4 separate regions of the Homo sapiens genome follow, and regions 1, 2 and 4 are each reported to be linked to region 3. The links are microRNA targets in miRTarBase. Many come from high-throughput screens and were not tested one by one. Region 3 holds a microRNA gene; each other region holds the end of a gene's coding sequence.

Region 1 (3,165 bases), not on the chromosome of region 3:
GAGTTCAAGACCAGCCTGGGCAACCGGACAAAACTCTGTTTCTTCAAAATACAAAAAATTAGCTGGCCGTGGTGGCATGCACCTGTAGTCTCAGTTACTTGGGAGTCTGAGGTGGGAGGATCACCTGAGACTGGGAGGTCAAGACTGCAATGAGCCGTGATCACGCCACTGCTCTACAGGCCGGGCAACAGAGTGAGACTGTTTGTTTAAAAAAGAAAAAAAAAAAGCAGCAGCAGCCCACAGATATTTACAGTATACTTTATTCAAAGCATTTCAGTTAAAATTATTTTGGGTTCAAATACATGAACATATAATTATATATAAAATACTATAGTTCTCAATAGTTTACAGTGACATCTTTTTTAGAATTAGCTGCTTATAATTTGAGTGTAAATGTATTACAGAAAGCTGCTAAATTGTTTATATTTCTACTTATTTCAATTTAGCTATTAGATATTTAGAACACTCATAAGCCCACCTACAGTATAGTTATTATACTTTAAATATTTATATTCAATAGGGGAATCAATACAATACAAAAGATATTTGAACAGCTAGTCCTTTGTAACACCCCCCCGCTGCTGCCGAGAGGGCTAGATAAGGGGGTCTTACCTATTTCCTCTGTACCACACTCACATTTTACCAGAGTCCATATACAGGGCCAGTGTGGAGTCACTTCATGCAAATGAGATGGTACTTTCAGTTTCCCCAAAAAGATGACTGCGAAATCCAGATTACACCCCAACGTTATGCCTCACCTTGGAGACCTATTCTAATGAATGTCAATTAGTGAATGTTGACTAACTTGTGGTTAGCATGACTGCAAAAAAATGAGGCCTGCTTCAGTGCAATCACTAAAGACAGGAGTGAGGCTCTTGGCCAGGCGTGGTGGCTCACACCTGTAATCCCAGCACTTTGGGAGGCTGAAGCGAGCGCAGGGGGAGGATCACTTGGGGCCAGGAGTTCGAGACCAACCTGGCCAACATGGTGAAACTCCGTCTTTACCATACAAAAATTAGCTGAACATGGTGGTGCAAGCCTGTAATCTCAGCTACGTGGGAGGCTGAGGCACAAGAATCACTTGAACCCAGGAGGCGGAGGTTGCAGTGAGCTGAGATTGCGCCACTGCACTCTGGCTTAAGCAACAGAGCAAGACTATCTCAAAAAAAAAAAAAAAAAAAAAGATGCTTTTGGCAAACCTGTAACATGTGCAGGTCCTGCATCTGGGCAGTGCTCAAGGGAAAGCCGCACTATGTCCACTGGGCCAAGACTCAACGTTGGCCATGCCCCCTGCTTCCTTAAATCTAACGCCACAAAAAGAGTTGAAGTAAAAGCCTGGCCAATACCATGATGACATCTACTTCCTGGCTTCCCGCCATCAACCCTCCCTCACACCATCTGCGGGCAGGTAGCAGATGCAGGAGAGAGAGTTCCACAAGACAGAAGGTCAACAGCACAAGTTGCAAGAGGCCCGCCTACGTCCCCAAGGCAAGGTCTCCCCTGATGTGAACAGTGTGACCCAAGTTGGCACTGAAACTGGAACAGTAGGGAGTCACCAAATTCAAATGAACAAGGAATACCCCAAAATGGGGAGAGTTCTCAAAACATTTTCAACATTTCGGTAATTAATTACCTCATCTCCAGTTAGGTCAATATTCCATATTATTAAGACACCTTTTATAATGGCAAACTCTCCTGACTACCTATCTTAGAATTTTTTTGAAGTCACTACTTACAGTGTAGATATTAACAGGCATGAGATTCAATATAGGGATCACTTTTATTTCAAACAATTAAATACAAACCAATATTTTACCCCTTCATAGATGAAATCACATCTTTTCAGGATATGAGTATAAAGTAACAAGCCTAGGGCAGAGCTTGTACTGACAAAGTCCTGAAACTACAATGAGAGGAAACACATTGCTCTACTTCGGGATAAGTCATGACCGAGACTCAATTTCAGAGACGCTCTATGAACAGAGGTGCTTGAAGCCACAGTGGCAGAAGGGAAAGATGGGGAAGTGTGCCGAAGAGCCTCCAGGCATGACAGACAGTCCCCTGACCAAGCACAAGTAACAGGCCCTTTGGGTCTCTGCTTCTCACTGGAAAATGATGAAGCCTAGATCTGATGACTCCTAGTGCCAACATTTAACAAAGTTCGAAAGTTATGCAGGACTTCACACATGTACGGAATGGCTGTATCACAGAATATTATGCGTTAGAAAGTTCACGGTCACTATACCTAGCTCTAAAATTTTTCAGAGAAACAGCAGACTAATAAGTGAATCTTAAATAAAGGAATAACATTTTAATGAAATAAATGAAACAGAGCAGGGAAACCAAAGAGCCAATTAGGGGAAGAATCCTGAAAAAGTATGGCTTCACACAGCAGCAGCATTGAAGAAAACACTATCGATTTTTCCCAGAGAAAAAAACTCCAAAAATGTCCAATAACCAAGTGCACAGAGTTATGGTCAATAAGACTTTGAACATGCATCACACATACATAAGTACATAAAGAAAATTTTCATTTATTTTTCCCTCAGATATACTTCAAAATAACATGTAGACACAGAATCACAAATATATACAAAACAAAGTATCGCCTGGTTATTTCAAGAAGAGTTTTCCCTCAATTTTCTTAGCTGCTGTGCATAAAATTCAAAGCTTTCCTGTTAAGGAGAAAAAAAGAGGGAAGTTAGAGATACCAGCAAGAGGTGATGGTACATAACTTAAAAAATCATAAAACACTACCAACTGGTAGCTAAGACTGCCAGGCCCATGGAAGATGCTGCCCCTCAAGCTTCAGTACTCCTTCCTTGTTTCATGAAATCACAAGTTCAAGGGCCTCGGGTTCAGAGTTAAAGCTAGCAGCAGGAGGTAGGGTGCGTGTGTGTATACGTGTGTATGTGCAAGCATGTGTGTGTGCACATATGGAGGTATGGGTATGGAAGGCTGAGGTGTTTGAAATAAACACGGTGTATTGACTCAGTTCAATGACATAACAAAAAGGAATTGTGCATATGTGATTTCTCTTATTAAAGAAAACATGCCGGGCACAGTGGCTCACGCCTGTAATCCCGGCACTTTGGGAGGCCGAGGTGGGCGGATCACGAGGTCAGCAGTTCAAGACCAGCGTGGCCAACATGGTGAAACCCCATC
Region 2 (3,165 bases), not on the chromosome of region 3:
TGAGCCCCCAGAAGGTAATGATGATGAAGTCAACAATAAGAACAGCAACAGATACTACTACTACTAGCACTTACTGAGCTCTCACTATGGTACAGGCCTTATGCTAATGGGTTTACATGTTCATGTCTTGTCTCATTTAATCATCACAACCCCACAAGGTAGGTACGACGACTGCCATTTTACAGATGAGGAAACTGAGGCACAGTCCAAGCAGCTGAAATTTCAACTTGAGGGCCAAGGAAGTTTTTCCCAGACATGCAGTGGAGATGACCGGGAGGTGTGAGCTTCCAGGAGAACTGGCGCAGGCCCGGCGACACTAGTTTGGAGGCATGACGCTAGTAGTGAGGGTCTTGATAAGAGTTGAGCCCATCTCCTCTGAGCACCTGCTTTCTGCTGAGCCACAGACTCTGGCACGTTTTCAGGCCTGGGACTTGGTTTCTGCATTGCCAAAGTTCAAAGGAAACAGGATTTACAAGAAGTTAGGGCCAGTGGGGTGGGGCTCCAGAGTTAGCAGAGGGGCTGCTACTAAAGCCGTCTCATTTCTTGCAGGAAGCTGGAGCTGCCACTTATGCTGGGAACTGCTCAAAGAGAAAGCCTCAGCCTTTGGCTGCCAGGCCTAGGGCCCCAGGTCACAGAATGTGACTCGCTGCTGGAGATCCTAAAGCAGAGCCCAGTTCAAACCAGAACGCGCCCTCCTCCCACATATCCAGCCAGACCAACTGCAAGGAAAAGAAATAGTCCCAGAGGGGCAGGGACACATGGAACGAAGAGGGTGAGGCATCTCCTGACCTCCCCCGATATGTACGGAACTTCAGCCAGCACCTCCTTGTCTCTACCGGAAGGAAGTTGCACTTTGGGAGAACACCTCCGGCCCCAGCCCTGTGGAACCCCTCTCACTTTTACCCTAGCACCGAGGCCCTCTCATTGGTTCCCATTTTAAGGGAAGCCATTTCCTGACCACTCATCCATTACTTGTGTGTAGTGTGGTGTTTTTTTATCTATTGTGTTCCAAGAAATCTTGGCACAGCCCCCGTGCCCCCAGCTTAGGGTCTGCATCCTGAAATTCTCACCTGAGGAACAAAGGGCTGTGGAGAAGTTGTCGTTTATGGCAAGCCTCACTGGAAACTTCTAGACTTGGGGTCTTGAAACCCTTTCTTGTTCCTTGGTGTCTGTGGAGACAAAGAGTTGCCTTCTAGAACCCCAGCAGTGGCATCCACAGCCAGCCTGGTCTTGAGCCACTGCTTAAAGTTACTAGATGGGGGCGGGGAGGGAGGGAGACGCGCAGAGACATGGGAGGAAACATTGTGGAAATGGTGCCAAGGCCCCGCCATAGCCAGTCAGTACTTGTTATCCATCGGGAGAGACTTTGCAAGAGGCCAGGCTGGTTCCTTGACCTTCAGAGCTGGGGCATCCTTTAGGTGAGACCAGTCATGGCCTATGGACAGAGGAAGACGGTCAAGCCTCTGCCTCTCAGCCCACCTGGTTCTGGAGACCTGGTTCAGCTTCTCCTGGTGGGACTGAAGAACCAGGAAGGGGAGCGAAGGCTGCCCAATCATGTGTCCGAATGCTGGATACAGGGGGCTGCAGCTTTGAGAAACCTTCAGTATTGATGCGACGCTCTGAATTCCTTTTTCCAAGTAATTTCTTCCTTCCACGTAGTGTTTGTTCGCTATTGTCTACTGAGACCTGACTGGGAATTTTAGGATGGGGGAGAGAAGATTGTTATCTAAACAAATAATTAGGGTGACATGGTCATTATTCACGACCAGGGTGGCCACATTTTAGAACTCTCAGTGCGGGGGCTGCTCTTGTCTCCTAAGCTCCCCAAACATGCAGGACTCTTGTTTTCAAAAAAAAATGTGTCTAGAAGAAAGAGGTGGGGAGGCTGAGCTTCCGAGAACTCTGTGTGTTGGAAGATAGCCCCGAGGGCTGGAGCGGATTGGGCTGACTTTGAATCGCAGCAGCAGCACAATAACTGACATATTTCTGGAAAAATCATTTGCCCAAAGGGCAGGTCTCGGTGAGCGGAACCCTCGCGCATGCTTGGCTTCTCTGAAATCAGCTCCATCTCTGTGGTCTGGCTGCTCACAACAAAGGCCCAGGTTATTTTTAGTTCTTCAGCTCCTGAGGACGCTCCCGGAGACTCGGGCTAGTTGGGCCACCTCTGCCCGGCCGCAGTATTTGTGCTGTCCCTCGGCAGGAGTGCTCCTCTCTAGGCTAATTGCTCTTGGCCAGTGGACCCAGGGCAGCCTGGCATGAAACCAAGCAGTGTGGGTCTCCCCCACGCTTCAGCAGAGTGACCTGTGGCAAGCGATGGGGGTCACTCTCCTGCAGGGGCCTGTGGCCTCAGAGGGAATCACACACATACATAATGGTCTCATTTAAAGGGCCCCCGACCGGATGGAATTTTCATCTTCCTCATAAGTAATTTCCTTCCGCCTGCTGGTCGGTGAGCTTGTCTGAATCCTGAAGGCCCAGGGAGGGATAGGGAGGGTGACATTCCATCAGAGGGGCACATTTTTTCTCCTGACTACTCCAGCTCTCTCTCTTCCCACAAAACCCAAAGCAGGCTGTCTCCAAAGGCTAATAATTGGTTTTGAGCGTCATTTTAATTTAAATTTAGAAAAAAAAGTTCCCCAAATGTTCCCAAGTGCCACAATAGCTTAAAAGTTTAAAAAGCAAGTCCGAAACCCCAAACTGTGGCTCTACAACTTCACACGTCCTCTTCAGAGTATGTGCAAATTTGTTTTCCACAGAAGTGCAGGTGATAGGGCAGCCCTGTTCGATCTCAGCCCCATGTCTGCTCTGCCTACACAAGCTGAGCCTCAGCTGGGTCTCCCAGGCCAAGGCAGGGCACTGGAACTTGCCTGCACTGGTGAGGGTCAGGGCTCTGGAGTGACGTTAGGATGGCCCCGGAGTTCCCCTCTCAGCTTCATTACTCCCTGAAGAATGGGCCCAACCCATTCTTCATCTTTGGAGGCCTCAGTTTCCCCATCTGGAAAGCGGGGATAGCAAGCCAGCTTGTGGGCTGGCACTGTCAGGGTACTACAAGCAGACAAAAGTCTCCGTGGTCACATTTATCACCTCTGTGTTCAAAAGAGGACGGGGTTGGTAAACTTTAAATTGGTCTCTTTTTTTTGAACCCCAGAGAATGAGATAGAATCA
Region 3 (3,165 bases):
CCTTTTATTTGTGAATTTTAAACTAAAGCAGAATGCTGATATATCAGGTCAAAAGTCTCCAAATATTCATCAACAGATGAATGGATAAACAAAATATGGTATATCTATAAAATGGGATATTATTTAGCCATAAAAATGAAGTATGGATACACGCTACAATGTGAATGAAACCTGAAAATTTGCTTAAGTGAAATAAATCAAACAAAAAAGACCATATATATTATCATATGTATATATCACATGTATATATCATATATATACCATATATATCATATATATACCATATATATTATAATATATAATATATATAATTCTATTTATATGAAAGACCCAGGCTGAGGGGAGGGGAAAATGGGGAGTGACTGAGTGTAGGATTTTCTTTTGGGATGATGAAAATGTCTAGTACTTCACAAAATTAGATAGAGCTAAATAGAAGTGGGGACTGCACAACACTGTACATGTACTAAATGCCACTGAATTATACAATTTAAAACAGTTAATTTTATGTTATGCATATTTTTCCTTAATAAAACTAAACAATTTACCATGACATTTCAATGGGGAAATAATATTCTTTTCAGCAAATGGTGCTGGAACAACTAGACATATCCACACGCAGAAGAACAAAGCTGGACCCCTTCCCTACACCACAACTAACTCAAAATGGATCATAGACATAAAATGTAAGTGCTAAAACTATAAAACTCTTAGAATACAGGAATAAATCTTCATGACTAAATGAATTTTTAGATATGACATCAAAGGTACAAGCAACAAAAGAAAAAAGATAATTTGGACTTCATCAAAATTAAGAACTTTTGTGCTCTAAAGGTTACCGTATCATCAAGAAGTAAAAAGACAACCCACAGAATGAGAGTAAATATTTGCAAATCATATATCTGATAAGGGGTTAATATCCAGAATATGTAACAAACTCTTACAACTCAACAATAAAACAACAAATAACCAAATTTAAAATGGGCAAAAGATTTGAACAGATATTTATCCAAAGAAGATAAACAAATGACCAATAAACACATGAAAAGATGCTCAACATCACAATCCCATTAGGAAAATGAAAATCAAAACAACGAGATAACATTTCACATCCACTAGGATGGTTATAACCAATCGAATGAGGATTCCAATTTTTCCACATCTTTGCCAAACCTTATTACCAAAGACGTGGAGAAATTAGAATCCTCGTTGGATTGTAAAATGGTGCAGTTACTTTGGAAAACAGTTTGGCAGTTTCTCAAAAGTTAAATACAGAGTTCTGACCCAGCAATTCTACTCAAGAGAAATGAAAACATAAACCTACACAAAAACTTGTTGACAAATGTTCACAGCAGGAGTATTCATAACAGCCAAAAAGCAGAAACAACCCAAATGTCCATCAACTCATGAATGGATAAATAAAATGTGATACATTCACATATGGAATATTTTTTGGTAACAAAAAATAATAAAGTACTGACATATGCCATAATGTGGATGAACCTTGAAAACATTATGTTAAAAGAAAGATGCAAGTAACAACCACATATTATATGATCTCTACATATAAAATGTTCAAAATAGACAAACCTGTAGAGACAGAGGATTAATGGCTGCCTAGAGCTGCGTGTGGTTGTGCGGGGAGGGTAGAATGGGAAGAAGGCTAAAACATATGAAGTTTCTATTTTGGGGTGAAGAAAATGTTCTGGAATTACATAGTAGTGATGGTTGCTACTTTGTGAATATGCTAAAAACTGCAGAACAGCACAACTTAAATAGGTGAATTTTATGGTATGTGAATTATTTCTCAAAACTGCTATTAAAAATATCATGGGCATTCTAAGAAAAACTTTTAAATGTATATATCAAGAAATAACTACTCTTGAAAAAAAATAAAGTCCAAAGATAAAAGATTACTTATATATGAACTTATTCCAAAGAACATACTACTACTCAGTTAAGATGTTTAGTTTCTTTCATGTCAAATCAACTGTTAATATTTTAAAGATTGTTCATTTTAATAAGGCTATAAGTTTTAAAGTATTAATTTTTTTATTCTATTTTGTTTACTGAATAGTTTGAAATCTGCTAGTTTACTTTAAATTCACTTTCAGAAGAAAAAATGACTGCAAATCTCTATTTGTGAACCTGTCAAAATATCAAAGCAATGATAATTGTTATAAACCCAAATAAATCAGTAAGCTAAACAGACTCATGATATTTTGCTATTTAGATTAATGCGTTCTAAGTAACGCATTAATCAGAGGTCATGCCATTACTGGCAAATAAATCAAAAAGGTATTTTTATAAAACAGTACCTGATTGAAAACTTATGTGTTAACATTCTGAACATGCTTAGAAACAGCCTTTACTAATTTCCCCACCATCTTAGTGAATAAGGTGTAAATGCCTTCACACTGTCATAAAACAAACTTCAAAATTTGGCTTCTACTTGTCCTTTCCACCTGCATCTCTCACCTGTCCCTTTACCATCCTCCCTTTTACCTTATTTTGCAGTTACACCAAACTTCTGACTCTTGACCCAATACTACATTTTTTTCTTCTGTTTATGCATTATGTCTGTTAGCCATAATTTCCTTTCTTCACATGGCAAATTACTACTCATCCTTCAAATTTCAAATCCTTTGTCAAACTTTTCCTGTATGCCCACAGAAAATCATTTCCTCTTCTATGCAGGAGCACATTCTCAATCCTGAATTAATACACTTTTCTTTTTTTTTTTTTTTTTTTGAGACAGAGTCTCACTCTTGTCACTCAGGCTGTAGTGCAGTGGCGTGATCTCAGCTCACTGCAACCTCTGTCTCCCGGGTTCAAGTGATTCTCCTGCCTCAGCCTCCAAAGCAGCTGGGATTACAGACGCCAGCCACCACGGCCGGCTAATCTTTGTATTTTTAGTAGATATGGGGTTTCGTTATGTTAGCCAGGCTGGTCTCAAACTCCTGACCTCAGGTGATCTGCCCATCTCAGCCTCCCAAAGTGCTGGGATTACAGGCGTGAGCCACCGCGCCTGCTTACACTTTTCAAGTTGTACTGTAATCATATGGTATCTGTTTCCCTATCATATTATACGTATTTGATGGCCAGAGCTATGCTAATATATTGATCTTTGGAATCCTGATACCAAGCAAAATACTGCTTTCAGCATAC
Region 4 (3,165 bases), not on the chromosome of region 3:
TAATAAGGTTCAGAGTATAAAAAATAGTTCTCACTTAAAATAACATACACCAAAAGAATATAAAAATATTGATTTATTACCAACAAAGCAGGATTTCCCAGTTTTTTCAATTACACACACACAAGCACACACAATAGCAGAATGAAATTACATTTTTCACATCTAAAGGTTTATACCTCAAAGAAAATAGGCATGTGTCCAAAAGACAATTAGAAAGCAAGAAATCTTTCCTTTTACTTTGAATATGGAAAATCTTTTAACAGAGACTCTTTCCAGGCAAACCAATGAAGATTTAGGCATAGAAAATGCTTGTCACCTTAAGGTTTTTAAATATAACTGTATTCACCAAATCAAGTTTTTACTAGAAGTTTTTACGATTTTTATGTAATTAAAAATCAACTTTTGGCCGGGTGCAGGGGCTCACGCCTATAATCCCAGCACTTTGGGAGGCCGAGGCGGGTGGATCACAAGGTCAGGAGTTCGAGACCAGCCTGGCCAATATGCTGAAACCCCATCTCTACTAAAAGTATAAAAAATTAGCTGGGTGTGGTGGGACGCGCCTGTTGTCCCAGTTACTTGGGAGGCTGAGGCAGGAGAATCGCTTGAACCCGGGAGGCGGAGGTTGCAGTAAGCCGAGATCACGCCACTGCACTCCAGCCTGGGCAACAGAGTGAGACTCCATCTCAAAAAAACAAACAAACAAACAAACAAAAAAACTTTTGTTTTAAGTGGCTGAGACTATGTGCTAGACTTACTACTGTTTAATATGCTAAAATGATACATAATTTATTCTTCACAGCTCAAAATTCAATGTAAAGCCAAATATTAATTTTGTCCAGTAGAGAAATTAAATGTTTACAAACAAAGTATGGAACAGTTGTTGGCCTATGTAAATTGAAATGTAATTGACCATTTTATTTTCAAACATGCTTAATCTTCACGTGTCTTTTTCACATTGATACTCATTTTGCAGAAATAAGATGACTGGTACTAATTTAGACAATAAACAAACTACACCAAGCACATTTTAGTAAAGATATTTTGGTGGAACGCAAAGTAATTAACGATGAAAACATTTGGTAATATCCATTTACTAATATGTTACCAAGTTCTTCAATGTTTACATGACTTGCTCATATTAGTAAAAATGTCATTTTAAAATATTTTCACACTTCATGCACTGGAGTTAGTTTAAGAAGGGAAGGCTCTTTTAAAATGTTTATAAAGAAGAAAATACCTTTTTAAAGAGAAAATGTCTAAGTGAGAGGACATAAACTTATGGCTCATTATTTTTTGACCTAGTTAAGAATATAAATTTCAATGGCTACTTAAGAATATACAAAACCCAAACTGAAAGCAATTCTTCAATTTATTCAGGCAAGCAAGTCAAAAAAATAATTTTGTCATTACTGGCACAGATCCAATCCACTGTTCAAAGACATGACTTTGGACTGTCTATTTTCCTATAAGATTTATTTTTTAAAAGAAGATAATTTGTTTGGTTCTACTAATTAGTATAACTTAGAGATAAACAAATGATTTTCCCATTTAATTCTTTTGCGGTGAAAGAAAACAGTTTAAACTAGATTTTCTAAGATAATGGGTACATCAACATTGTAAGAAAGGCCCTATAGGCTTAAGTTCTAAAAACATTACGGTTTTAAAGAAATCAATGCTTTTCCATCACTCTTTACATAACACTGAGAAATTTCAAATATAAATTGTAGAAACCAGTATATGAAATTTTAAGAAAAATCTTACTAAAAATAATTATAAAATGCTTTTAGAAATGTAAGATGTAAAATATAATTGACTTTAAATAAAATAAAAAAAAGCAACCCCTGCCCCCACACTTTAAAAGGTTATTCTTTAAAAACCCTTGTCACCTAATTTTATTCTCAGTCAATCTTTTGGTTGTATTTTGCATCATCTAGTGGCCACCTTGCAGCATTTCAAAGCAGTTCTGCTACCATTTTTGAACCCCAGTGCTTTTTTCCCCTTGAAATACCAATAAAATTATAGCATCAAGTTTCATAAAACTTTCTTTTAAAGGCCCATAAAATTCCATTTCCTACTGGAGATAAGGTAATCTTTTTTAATAGGAAGAAATGACTAGATCTGTCATAAATTATTACTATACATTAGACATTTTCATATCAATTTTTTAAAATTAAATATAACATTGGGAGAAACTAGGACTTAGGCTCTAGAGTCATCTTTAGGCTCTAAAAGTAATTAAAGTTACTCTGCAATTAAAGCTCAGGGCTACCATATAAGTAACTTCTTGTGATTAACCCTTCTTCCACTGTACCTTTGATTTGTAATATTAAGTACATTTTAACATGAGAACTGAATGACTCATGGTCAGAGTGCCAAGAACTCAAGTTCAACCAAGACTGAAGAAGACTTAACTTTTACTACCAGCTGCTATTTTGGAAAGGTCATTATAGTTTCCATTATCAACCTATTTGTATTTAAAAGCAGGTTTCCAAAAATAACTGCTTTTCGTTTTAGTGAATCTCCTTTTATTCAGTTGAGCCATACTTATAAACAGAATTTAACAAAAAAAATTCCCAAGTTCCCTCTCTTTACTTTTATTAAGAAGGTTGAGTGAATGTAATACGGCGCCGCCGCCTTTGGAAAGCCTTTAAATTCCATGTGTTTGGTTCCAGCATATGAGGGCCATTGTAGACAAACAAAACTGTCATCTTTTCAGAATAAGGAAGATTTTGCAGGAGCTGTAAGTATTAAAACAAATTGTCATATAAGCTATATACTGAGAAGTATAGTTTTCCAACCTTACATGTGTACAGTCAAATGTATTATTTTATTTGCAATATTAATAAAACTTTTTTTTTCCCACTCTGCTGCTCAGGCCGGAGTACAGAGGTGCGATCTCAGCTCAGTGCAACCTCCACCACCCAGATTCAAGAGATTCTCGTGCCTCAGCCAGCCTCCAGAGTAGCTGGGATTACAGGCATGCACCATCAGGCCCAGCTAACTTTTTGTATTTTTAGTACAGACAGGGTTTCACCATGTTGGCCAGGCTGGTCTCGAACTCCTGACCTCAGGTGATCTGCCCGCCTTGGCTTCCCAAAGTGCTGAGATTACAGGTGTGAGCCACTGTCCCCAGCCAATAAGACTCTTAAGAAGCTCTTAAACACC

The links. Region 3 holds the annotated microRNA hsa-miR-576-5p (AUUCUAAUUUCUCCACGUCUUU, at 1,180-1,201, opposite strand). A microRNA usually pairs through its seed, bases 2 to 8, with sites in the 3' UTR of a target mRNA and lowers its output. Matches are read on the target gene's strand: a 7mer-m8 pairs with bases 2 to 8, a 7mer-A1 pairs with bases 2 to 7 and ends in A, and an 8mer does both.
Region 1: miRTarBase lists LRPPRC as a target of hsa-miR-576-5p. Seed matches in the 3' UTR shown: 7mer-m8 at 771-777.
Region 2: the mRNA of DPF3 is a reported target of hsa-miR-576-5p. Seed matches in the 3' UTR shown: 7mer-A1 at 2,620-2,626.
Region 4: the mRNA of SMC5 is a reported target of hsa-miR-576-5p. Seed matches in the 3' UTR shown: 7mer-A1 at 1,589-1,595.

The regions. Positions count from the first base shown.
Region 1 is chr2:43,885,982-43,889,146 of GRCh38, forward strand. It overlaps LRPPRC (leucine rich pentatricopeptide repeat containing), which reads right to left. Exons shown (of 38, transcript NM_133259.4): 38 at 243-2,675. The coding sequence ends at 2,619. Among named protein-coding and RNA genes, the nearest start is that of ABCG8, 49 kb to the left of the region's middle.
Region 2 is chr14:72,616,752-72,619,916 of GRCh38, reverse strand. DPF3 (double PHD fingers 3) reads left to right here. Exons shown (of 11, transcript NM_001280542.3): 10 at 1-14; 11 at 550-3,165. The coding sequence ends at 620. It also overlaps a transcript of RGS6 not described here. Among named protein-coding and RNA genes, the nearest start is that of MIR7843, 100 kb to the right of the region's middle. RefSeq lists an enhancer at 42-1,241.
Region 3 is chr4:109,486,749-109,489,913 of GRCh38, reverse strand. MIR576 (microRNA 576) reads right to left here and starts at 1,216; the gene lies at 1,119-1,216. All of the region lies in intron 4 of SEC24B (SEC24 homolog B, COPII component), which reads right to left.
Region 4 is chr9:70,351,764-70,354,928 of GRCh38, reverse strand. It overlaps SMC5 (structural maintenance of chromosomes 5), which reads right to left. Exons shown (of 25, transcript NM_015110.4): 25 at 56-2,738. The coding sequence ends at 2,598. Among named protein-coding and RNA genes, the nearest start is that of KLF9-DT, 61 kb to the left of the region's middle.